Homo sapiens: one gene and its partners. The protein of the gene in region 3 interacts with the protein of the main gene of each other region in a pairwise test. Each region holds a gene or a part of one and is shown on either strand. Other genes may lie near its edges. The genes, in order: ZNF300, OR52L1 and ALX1.

Evidence for each region.
Region 1: the proteins of ALX1 (region 3) and ZNF300 interact in binary tests that used the Homo sapiens proteins (3 or more experiments, as listed by UniProt).
Region 2: the proteins of ALX1 (region 3) and OR52L1 interact in binary tests that used the Homo sapiens proteins (3 or more experiments, as listed by UniProt).

The regions. Positions count from the first base shown.
Region 1 is NC_000005.10:150,903,236-150,906,993, forward strand, and holds the start of ZNF300 (zinc finger protein 300), read right to left. Parts: upstream 1,746-3,758; 5' UTR 1,469-1,745; intron 743-1,468; 5' UTR 629-742; intron 149-628; exon of another isoform or gene 115-148; coding exon of another isoform or gene 94-114; intron 83-93; exon of another isoform or gene 1-82. UniProt on the Homo sapiens protein: Has a transcriptional repressor activity.
Region 2 is NC_000011.10:5,985,348-5,988,651, forward strand, and holds OR52L1 (olfactory receptor 52L1), read right to left. Parts: upstream 1,639-3,304; 5' UTR 1,584-1,638; coding exon 594-1,583; 3' UTR 545-593; downstream 1-544. UniProt on the Homo sapiens protein: Odorant receptor.
Region 3 is NC_000012.12:85,283,217-85,286,974, forward strand, and holds part of ALX1 (ALX homeobox protein 1), read left to right. Parts: intron 1-355; coding exon 356-660; intron 661-3,636; coding exon 3,637-3,758. UniProt on the Homo sapiens protein: Sequence-specific DNA-binding transcription factor that binds palindromic sequences within promoters and may activate or repress the transcription of a subset of genes.

The DNA of each region.
Region 1 (3,758 bases), on a different chromosome or scaffold from region 3:
GCAGCTTTCACATTCACCAATCTTGCAACAACTAACATCAGAAGTCAAGTAACTAATGGGCTACCCTGTGGGATAAGGTTGTTTGAGCCTTACAGAAGTCTCAGCAGGCACCATGTGGAGGAGGGATCATTCTTTACTCCTCTTGTACCTATAATATGATCACATAGAAGTTGACCAAGGTTTTATAATTGGATAGATGTGAAGATATGTTTCCAGTTGATTTACTAACAACTTACTGTTCCCCTTGGGAATCAGCAATTCTATTTATAGAAGATTTTCATGAGGCAATAATCATGGATAGCTATATAAGGATATAAGTGAAGATGGAGCTCCTTGGCAGTAAGAATGGGAATGACCAAATGGAAAACTGAGGCATGTGTTCCCTATTCCTAAAAAGAACCAGCAGCTGAATTCCAACAATTTTCCAAGAACTCTCTTATATTTTCCCCCAACTTAGAAAACTCTTGCTAAATCAATGTGCATGAACTCAAAGGTTAATTTTAAGATGTTTTCTGTTTAAATTTTTATTGCTCTTTTTCAACAGCTCTATTGTCTGTATACAAAAATGGTGATAGGTTGGAACCACTGGAAAAAAAAAGAGTATACCACAATGCAGGAAGGTAAATACCTGGTAAATTTTCCTCAGTCCCAGGACAAGTCATGCAGACAGAGCTGAACTATTTCAGAGGACGTGGGGGCTCCCATGACAGACAGATTATTTTATATGGGGGTATCAAAACATCTGGAAGGAAACAAAAGAAACAATCATACTCATCTCTGGATATCCCGCAGATGCTCAATAAATGTCTCTTGAATAAAATATAAAATGATTTAAATAAACTTAGAAAGTGGAGAACTGAAATCAAACTTTTAATTATGATTTTATCAGTTTTGATTTGTTTGGTCTTGTTTTAAAATGACCATTTGATGGGGGTACCATCAGAAATGCTTAGTGGGCAATGGTAGACTAAGAAAAGATGTGAAAAGGGGTTGACCTTTAAGAACTCAAACAGTTGCCTATGACCTGTGGAAATTTAACGTTAAGTAAAGGCCTTCCCCAGTAAAATGTGGCTGACCACCATGACACCGTGGCCCCATTACTGTCCCCATCTAAATCTCGGAATTCTCAGGCCTAGTAATCATATACCCTACTGAACTCCCCCATGTCCATCACATCACTGAACACATGGACGCCCCCATCATTTAGTCCATAGCCTCCCATCACTGATTCCTCAGAGTCCCCTAAATCACTGAACCCAGTTAAACCCACCAGTCAGTCCACCTGCAAGCCATTCCTGACCTAATAGACACCCCCTCACCTCTCACTTCCCTGTTACTAATCACATCTCGGACTCCCACATAAATCCAACATTAATCCCACCTACTTCCCCCACCAGTGATTTCATAAACCTCCTACCACTGACCCTCACGGGCTCCTCTCCTCCCATTACCAATCCCACAGACTCACCCTTCACCGCACACATCCCGCCTCTGACTCCCAGCTCGATTATCAGGTCCCAAAACCACCATCACCGCTTAATGGGAACCGCTGTCACATCCCTATTGGCAAACTCTCCTGCTTCCTGTCCGCGAGCACCACACCGGGCTCCCGAGGCTGCGCCGTTCCGTACTGGGCGGTTTTGCCCGTTCCGCATCTTCAGAGGCTTTGTTCAGGAAGCAACATGGCTGCTCCCTGGAGCTGTTTCCGCATGGGGCCGCCATCTTGAGAGCCCGGTCGTCTTCGTACTAGCGGAGGATTCGCCCAGTGCTGAGCCCGAGAATGGGCTGTACCACAGCGGCAGCGAAGGGAGGGGAAGGCGACGGAAAGGAGGCCTGCGAAAGGAGCATTAAGGAGCACACTTTTGCAGAAAGATTTTACAAGGGGGATTGAAGAGGAAGTTGGAGTGAACCTTCCTCTATTGGAAGCATGCTTCTGACGAAAGGGGAGGAATTTTAGATGGTACCATGGACGTGTTTGTGAATGGTACAGCCCCATGCCGGGAGATTCGACTGCTCAGAGGGGAAGCGTGGAATGGTGCGGTCCTCTCCAGGGAGATTTCACTGTGGGAGAGAGGGACAAAATCTGGGGGCTGAACAATCATTGTGTACTGTAATTATGCCAATAACAACGGTAAGGAATCCTTATAAGGGAATTTGATATTGCAGTAATAAGTAATAAGAGGTCGACTGAAGGAAAAAGGGAAATTAAGAGCAGGGAAGAGGAGACTGAGGCACAAAGAGAGGGAAGTGAGAAGCAGAGAATCAGAGAGAAAATGGGGGAAATGGGGACAAAGGAGCCAGCCTAGAAAGGAGGAGAGACGGGAGACTGAAGAGAAAAAAATAGACATAGGAATAGAAGTGGGGATCTAAGGGGTAGAGCGTGGTAGACAGACAGATTGAGACAGAAAAGAGACTTGAAAATTGGAACAGACATAAGGGAGAGACTGAGAAGGTTAGATTTCAGAAACAACAACAACAACATGATTTTTTAAAAATGAACCAGCCAAAGAGAATACTAAAATTGTTATCTTAACCCTTAGACCTTACATCAAGCTTTAAAAAAGCAAAATGCATGTTCACAGACCAATGTTTCATTTGTATAAATGAATACAATTTTGAATCATAATTTTCACACGAGTCATGCTTTTTGATATGTTATGAAATAGGCAGCAATTTTACATTTAGCAATTTATTTCTCATGTCAAAACAAATGCACTTAGATAAGAAGACAATGTATTCAGAAAGAACACTGTTGCATTAGGAAGAATGCTCCAATCTCAAATCTGCAAGAATCACAATATCAACAAAATGACTTTTTTTTTTTTTATAGGGAAGAGTAAGAAGGGTTAGCAGGAACTTTGTAGGGAGAAGGATATGAGATAGGGGTGTGCAGGTGGCAAAACCAGGGCATTTCTACAGAAATTGTTTCTGTTGTCATGGAATTCTGAGAATAAGCGGTTAAGGGGAGATGTTTTGAATCATAGTGCATTAGTGCAGTGTTTCAACTCAGGGGAAGCCAAAATGAAGGGGCCTGCGGGAAGGAGAGAAGTCTGACTAAAGGTTGGTCAAGACAAAGAGGATAAGAAATAGTTGGTTGTGAACACTTAACCTCTTCATCTCTATTTAGACTTCCACAGTTATATCAATATTTATTTCTTGACTTGAGCTTAAGACAGTGTAGACACTGAGTTTAGTGGTAAAGGTATATAGTAATGATTAATTCAGATACCTCACCCTCAAGGAGTGATGCCAGTGGAAGTTGTAGAGTCAGGAAAAGGCCAGACTCTACTACTATTCCTATGCGGAGAGCCTTGTAGGAATTGTAAAAACTTTAGTTCTTCATCTTAAGAATTACGGAAAGCTGTCCTTATGTAGTACCTAATTTAAAAAGAAGATGTTGAAGGAACAGGAAGCCTCCCTCATAATGAAAGGAAGAAAATTAAAGCCATAGTACAATACCATTTCCCATCTATTTGCTTATAAAATATTTTCTAAGTTTGGCAACACTGTTAGGCCATGGGAAATATCATGTGTTACTGGTGGGACAGCAAACTTACAGCCCTCTTTAGAGGGTTTGGCAATATCTAGCAAAACTACATGTATTAGTTATCTATTGCTGTGTAACAAATTACCCAAAACTTAGCAACTTGAAATTATAAATATTTATTGTCGCATAGTTTCTGTGAGTCAAGAATGGGAACAGCTGGGCTGGGTGGTTCAGGTTTAGTCTCTCGTGATGTTGCAATCAAGCCATAGGC
Region 2 (3,304 bases), on a different chromosome or scaffold from region 3:
AAAATAGAAATTATATTTTATTATTCCTAGAGCCTATTACCATAACTTCTCCACTTATGTTTGTTTTAAATAAATAAGTAATACCCATATTGCAATAAATGCTGTTTTCTTACACTGCGACCTTCTCAGCTGCTTTGAAGAGACCCTATTGGTAAACAGGAGCCAATGATCTGGGGATCCCAGCACTAACTTAGAGGTTTTGAAGAAACTCTAAACCTAAAACCAACCAAAGGGTGGGACTTTACAATTCCAGACAGTGTTGCATGGCCTACCATTGGGCAAAGGCGAGAAAGATGACACATTCAGAGCTATCATCTATTTCTCCTATCCCCAAGTCCTACTGACACAAGGAGTAGAGAAATGTTGAAATCAAGAGCAAAAGAAAAAATGGCAAAAATATTCACAAATCCAGATATCCAGGTACATCCCAATAAGCCAAGTATCTGTGGGTGTTCTTTAGCATGGCACTAGTAAGACTAGAAGGAATACTCACTGCAAAATGGTCTGTATTCATGTAATCTACACCAGTCACAGGCTCCTGGCTGTGGTCCGCAGAAGAAGCCTCCGAAGGAAACAATGAGAATATGTTCAGATCAATCCTTTTGTGTAAACACTCTGAGCACTCGCTGGCGGATCTGCTGAGTCTTCACTCCATAGACAAGAGGATTGAGCGCAGGTGGCATGAGGAGATACCGTGTGGCCAGAAGAACATGGACATGATGGGGTACATGATGACCAAAGCGGTGAGTGAGGAAGGAGAAAATTCCAGGGACATAGAAGACCAGGATGACACAAATATGAGAGCCACATGTGCTAAACGCCTTAAGTCGGGCCTCACTCCCTGGTACCTTCAGCACTGCCTGGAGGATGTGGGCATAGGAAACACCAATGGCCAGAACATCCAGCCCAATCACAAGCAAGGCCATAGTCAGCCCATAAGCTCGATTGACTGTGGTTTCTGAGCAGGCAAGTTTCACAACAGCCATATGTTCACAATAGGCATGGCCTATGATGGTGGCTTGGCAGAAGATAAGTGTTCCCAACAAAATGGGGAAGGGGATAAGGAGTAGTAATCCCCTCACCAGCACCACCATTCCGATGCGCCCTATGACCCCTGGATGCAGGATTGTGGAATGGTGCAAGGGGTGACAAATGGCTACATAGCGATCCAGAGCCATGGCCACAAGTACCCCTGACTCCATGGAGGAGAATGCATGGATGAAGAACATCTGGATCAGGCAGACGATGTACCCAATCTCGTGGGCATGAACCAGGAGCACTGCAAGGGCTTTGGGTGCAGTGGAGGAGGCCAGAACCAGGTCGATGGCAGCTAGCATGGACAGGAAGAGGTACATAGATTGGTGCAAGGATGGGTCCATCCAGATGATGAAGAGAATGGTAACATTGCCCACTAAAGCAAGGAGGTAAAGGATGCCCAGGGGCAGTGCAATCCAGTGCTGGCTTTCCTCTAAACCTGGAATCCCTACCAGGAGAAAAGAAGGCTGGGATAGCCTCCAGCTTGAATTGCTAAGGAGCATTATCAATGGCTTGGAGAGGAAAGAGAAAAAAGAAACCAAAGTCATGATTTCTGCATTCCTGCTACATTATCACATTGTCCAAATGGGGCAACCATCATCCTGAGAAGAATAAAGTGACTTCAACTGCAAACGAAGGGAATAAAGTTAGCTACAGGGAAGAAAATCTCCTTTGGTGGAGATAATTCTTTTACAAGTGAGACATCCACATGTCTGAATTAATACAAGCTTAGTTTTGTTTAGAGATAAGAGTAAACATAAGCTGCTTTTGGAGAGATGCTTAAACTCTACTATTCAGTTGCTTATATTTTGGAACTGTCAACTTCAAAGAGTTATTTTTATTAGCCTCTTGGTATTACTGACCACTGTGAATCAATCTGTTGTTTTTGAAATTAGTCTTCCTCAGTTTCCATGACATGGCACTCCAGAGTTGTTCCCCCTGTAGCCTTGGTCCCACCATTTTCTCTATCTCATTATGTCATTGATTCCAGGGATCCATCCTCTCCTGTATTCCCTATTCTGTGCATTATCTCTTAATTGACTTCATTTATTCCCATGGTTTTAACTGTTTATATACTTTTATTTCTTCCAAATTTATGTCTGTTTACCCAAATATCCTTCTGAAATATAAATCCATTTTTCCATTTGCTTTATGAATATCTATACACCACATCCTCAACATATTCAACATTGGATTAATTCACCTATTTTTCCCAAATTTGTTCTACTTATGTTTTGGCAATAATTTTTAATTACATCCCTAGCTACCTACACAACCCAATCTAAAAACTTGGAACCTGTCTTTACTCATAATCCTCATCCCCTTTTATTCATTCACCAATTCATGTTGACTTTATGTTAACCCCTCTTATATCCACTCCTTCTTCTCAACCCCCAATATCACTACCTTAGTTTACACCCAACTTCTCTCACCTGGACTATTTCATAACATCTTTCTGCCTTTGCCATAAACACCTTCCCAATTCACTCTCAACCCTGAAGTCATGGGTTTTTTTTCTAAAATGCAGATCTCATCATATCACTCCTAAGATTAAAATCCTTTGGTGAATTTATTGCATGGAATAAAATCATACTTTGAGACTGGCATAAAAGATTATCAAAAGTTATCTTTTTTGCATTACTTTTGTCTTACAGTTGATATATTTCTACATATGTTTTACTAACCATCCCTGCATTCTTGGAGTTACATGTACACACCAAGCTTACCTATGCCTTTTGTGTAGTCTGTCTCCAAATTCCTTTATCTGAATTGGTCCTTCAAAATTCAAAGTCCACTGTCACCCCTCAAAAGGACTCATTGCCTATGTCAGATGAATATTGATTATGTTCAGAGCACTTTATAATCTTCCTTTATTCATCCATAACTTTCTGACTTATCTCTAGAAATTCTATCAGTGTCTTAATGGTTTGTTTTTTTAAAGAAACATATCTTATTATACTTTATAATTATAACATAGCATGGTGAACATTTCACAATGTAGTGAGATAAATAAAAGCAATGGAGGAAGACAGACTTAGTTTAAATTTTGTCCATTTCATATTCTAGGAATAAAACCTTGGCAGGATACTAAAACTCTCTCAGTCTTGATTTCCTTATTTTATAACTAACATCAATCTTACAGGTTTATTGTAAACATTAATTAAGTAATATATGTAAAGTCTTGATATCTAGATTAGTCTACAAATTATAGTTATAATTATTTTAATATTAGCAATAGAAGATGACTGAGAATTAGACCACAGGCTTC
Region 3 (3,758 bases):
GCTTCAGTTTTCAAAAATCATGGACACTTAAAGTTTCTTTCATGAAACACCCAGATCATCTTTTAATTCGAGTACATGAATTTAAGTAAAAAACATGTGCATAAACTTATAAATCCTGTAAAATAGAACTGCGGATTTTGGCAGATCATAGCAGTTGCATGAACACATTTTAAAATGGTATTTAAACCTGTCCTACAATGAATTAAGTATAGAAATGTGGTAATTGAATTAATACTAGCACAATAAATTATTAATAGGCCAATTTCTTGATACTCTCAATTACTTCTACTTATTGATTTAATTGAGATGAGTTTCACAATCCTGAGAACTGTTGTTTTTCCTCCTCTGGGTACAGTGAACTATGGGATCACTAAAGTAGAAGGACAGCCCCTTCACACCGAACTGAATAGAGCTATGGACAACTGTAACAGTCTCCGAATGTCTCCCGTGAAAGGGATGCAAGAGAAGGGAGAGCTGGATGAACTTGGGGATAAATGTGATAGCAATGTATCCAGCAGTAAGAAACGGAGGCACCGAACCACCTTCACCAGTTTGCAGCTAGAGGAGCTGGAGAAAGTCTTTCAGAAAACTCATTACCCGGATGTGTATGTCAGAGAACAGCTTGCTCTGAGGACAGAGCTCACTGAGGCCAGGGTCCAGGTAGGAGCCAAAAAGAGGCCTTGATGGATGGGATAGGAAAATAAATGGTGTTAGAATAATTGAATAAGTGCATTTTGCCACAAAGAAACAAACTGATTCCCTAGCTGAAGATGAGAAACGGAGTAATATATATGAATATATGTCTACTAAAATTATTTTTTAATTGCAAAAATTTTGACAACTCACGCAATATGTAAAACAAAAGAACACAAGTTATTACAGAGACATAAAAATTAACAATCATTCAAACATAACAATATGATAATATATCTCTGATTTTCAAAAGCAGTTTTTAAAGGATGAAAAGCAGAATCATGACTATTTAGTAATTGGTATATTTATTTGTTTTTTTTTTTTCGGTTTTATTAGCCACTAAGGTTCTTTTTTAGATTATATATCAGGTATTTGTAAATTATTTGTATAATAGCCCATACATCTAGAAATTTCTAGATTTGGAGGCATAATAAAAAAAAAAACAATCCCACAAATTCCCAATTGTTATGTATACCATGGAATGTTTTCACTATGGATAATTAAAAACAAGATCAAATAGTGCTCATTTACAATTTTATAGTCCTAGTAGTTGTCAACATGTAAATATTCCATTATAATGGTTAAAGTCTAGATAAATCATATGAATTTTGCATAGGCAATAAAAATAATGGCTTTAAAGTAAATTTTTGTGTATACTCAATTATGTTTATAAGATATATTCTAGTTATTAAATTGGATGATCCAATATGCTTAATTTTTAAAAATAATTTGAGAAAGAAAAATCATACCAGGTAAAATTTTACCTCTTAGGAGTACTTTATTTTGACTACATTTGATATTCTTAAACTATATTTTACTAGTTTCCAAGTAGTAAGAGTTTAAAATGCAACAATAATTCAGGATAATGGCCTTGGTCTTTGTGTGTGTTCTGACTCCTCTACAAAAGTATTGATTTTTGCAATTCCCATAAACTGCTAAAATGGGGGAATGAATAAAATAGTGAAAATTTTTGTTCTAAATCGAGTAACGGTATTTCTTCTTAAAATTGTAAGGCTCTTACATCATTAGAGACAACATCTGGTGGCACACGGATAACAAGCAGCAGATTTTTACTTGAGTTTGTGGAAGCAAATGGTTACTTTATCTTGGTTCAGGAAGTAAATATGTAGAAAGTTCATGCTAACAAAGAATTTTAGAATTGTCGAGTATTAACACCCGCTGTGTAAGTTTGAGATTTTTGTCTTTGTCTATATTTAAATTAGTTATACTTGTAACCATAAACAAATATGTTTGCACACAGAGTGACCAACTGTACATAATGCATCTTTTCCCCTTAACATTCACCAAGTCTTGATTAATTTTTGTCTGAGAACATGCACAGAGAGCCAACTTGAACTTAATTTACTCAGGTCGTTCTCTTTCCTGCTTTGCACATAAGAGTGGTAACTATTACTCATTTTAAGGAAATTGTCAAGTTCTTTTTGTCAATGGAAAAAAAAATAAAACCCAAAAACGTATTACTAAATTCCCTTAGTGTGTTCCTGGGGCTCATCTGCGGAGACAGCAAGAAAATTTGATTTGTTTTTTGTTGTTGTTGATGTCTTGAGCCTTGGCATAATGGATAATATGCATTTATCAGCAGTGTACTAAAACTATAATGAACATGTAGCTCTCTGGCTCATTTCAATTGCTGAAAACTCTGCAAAGTGCCATCTTAAATTTGTAATGTGTACTAAAAAATTAAACTGAGTATTAATATGTTGCCATAATGGTGAAGGTAAAGATATACAAGATTAGAATTGAGTATGAAAAAGAGTGAAAATTTCAAGTAAACTTCAACAAAAGGCTTTTACAACTTGCATTTTTTATATTTGATTTCTAGCCTTTTTCCTAAATATTTTATATTCTGAACATAATTGTGTGAAGAAGACTAGATTCCCAAAAGCTACTCCTATAATGTTCATTTAAAAACATCCAAGTATATATATTGAATATAATCTTCTGCATCTCCCTTTAATATTAAAGTGAAGATATTGGAATATTACAGGTATGAATTAATGAATATCCAACCTGCTGAGGAAGATGGTTCTTATAATAAATACTTCTAATAGGTAATTAGAGAAATTGTGGAAGATAGCTTAGTGACCTTAGCTGCCACAGTAACTGATAGACTTTCTTGACACTTGGTTCTATCTGCCCTATTTCTTATATTATTTCCATTACCTGTGCTTTAAATTAGAGAAATTACGTAAAGATATCCGAGCATTTTCATAAGGGAAAATAAGTTGCATAATGTATGTAATAAGCACATTCACGTATTTTAAAACCATAGTTCAACTTTAGATGATTCCTTTTTACCTATAATTCTTGTCATGCTTATTATAATATGTAATCTCATTTTTTCCTATTTCTAGATAATCATGATGTTCCTGCTGCTGCCATATATTTAGGTGTAATCTTTATGTTTAAAATTTTAAAAGATTATGTAGGTATGAGCACAACTGAGAAGAGCTTTCACTTTTGTGATATATTTTAAAGATAAGTTTTAATAGACTCAGATATTAATTTGCTTATAGATTGACTGAGTTTACGTTACGGCATATACATCTTCCAGACTTGCAGCATTCTCTTAAAGGAGACTTATCCATGACAATGTGGAGATATATGGAGTATTCAGGATCATATAATCTAATTGCTTTTTGTTTTCCATAAATGAGAAAACAGAGGCTCAGACGTATCAGATGTATTTCCCGAAAGTCTCCTGCCTCTTTCTATTAAATTATTTTGTCTCATGGGAAAATCACTTACCACATCAAGATACAAGAAAAAGTAAAATCTGTGGATCCTTTTCTAACATAAATACATTTCTTTTTACGTAATTTTTTTAACCTGGTTTACCTTTCTTGTTTGATGTCTTTTAACATCACATTTGCTTTATCAAATATTCCTTAGCTAAAATTCTAATTTTTATTAAATAATTAGGTTTGGTTTCAAAATCGAAGGGCCAAATGGAGAAAAAGGGAACGTTATGGCCAAATACAACAAGCGAAAAGCCATTTTGCTGCCACCTATGATATATCAGTTTTGCCAAGGACTGACAGCTA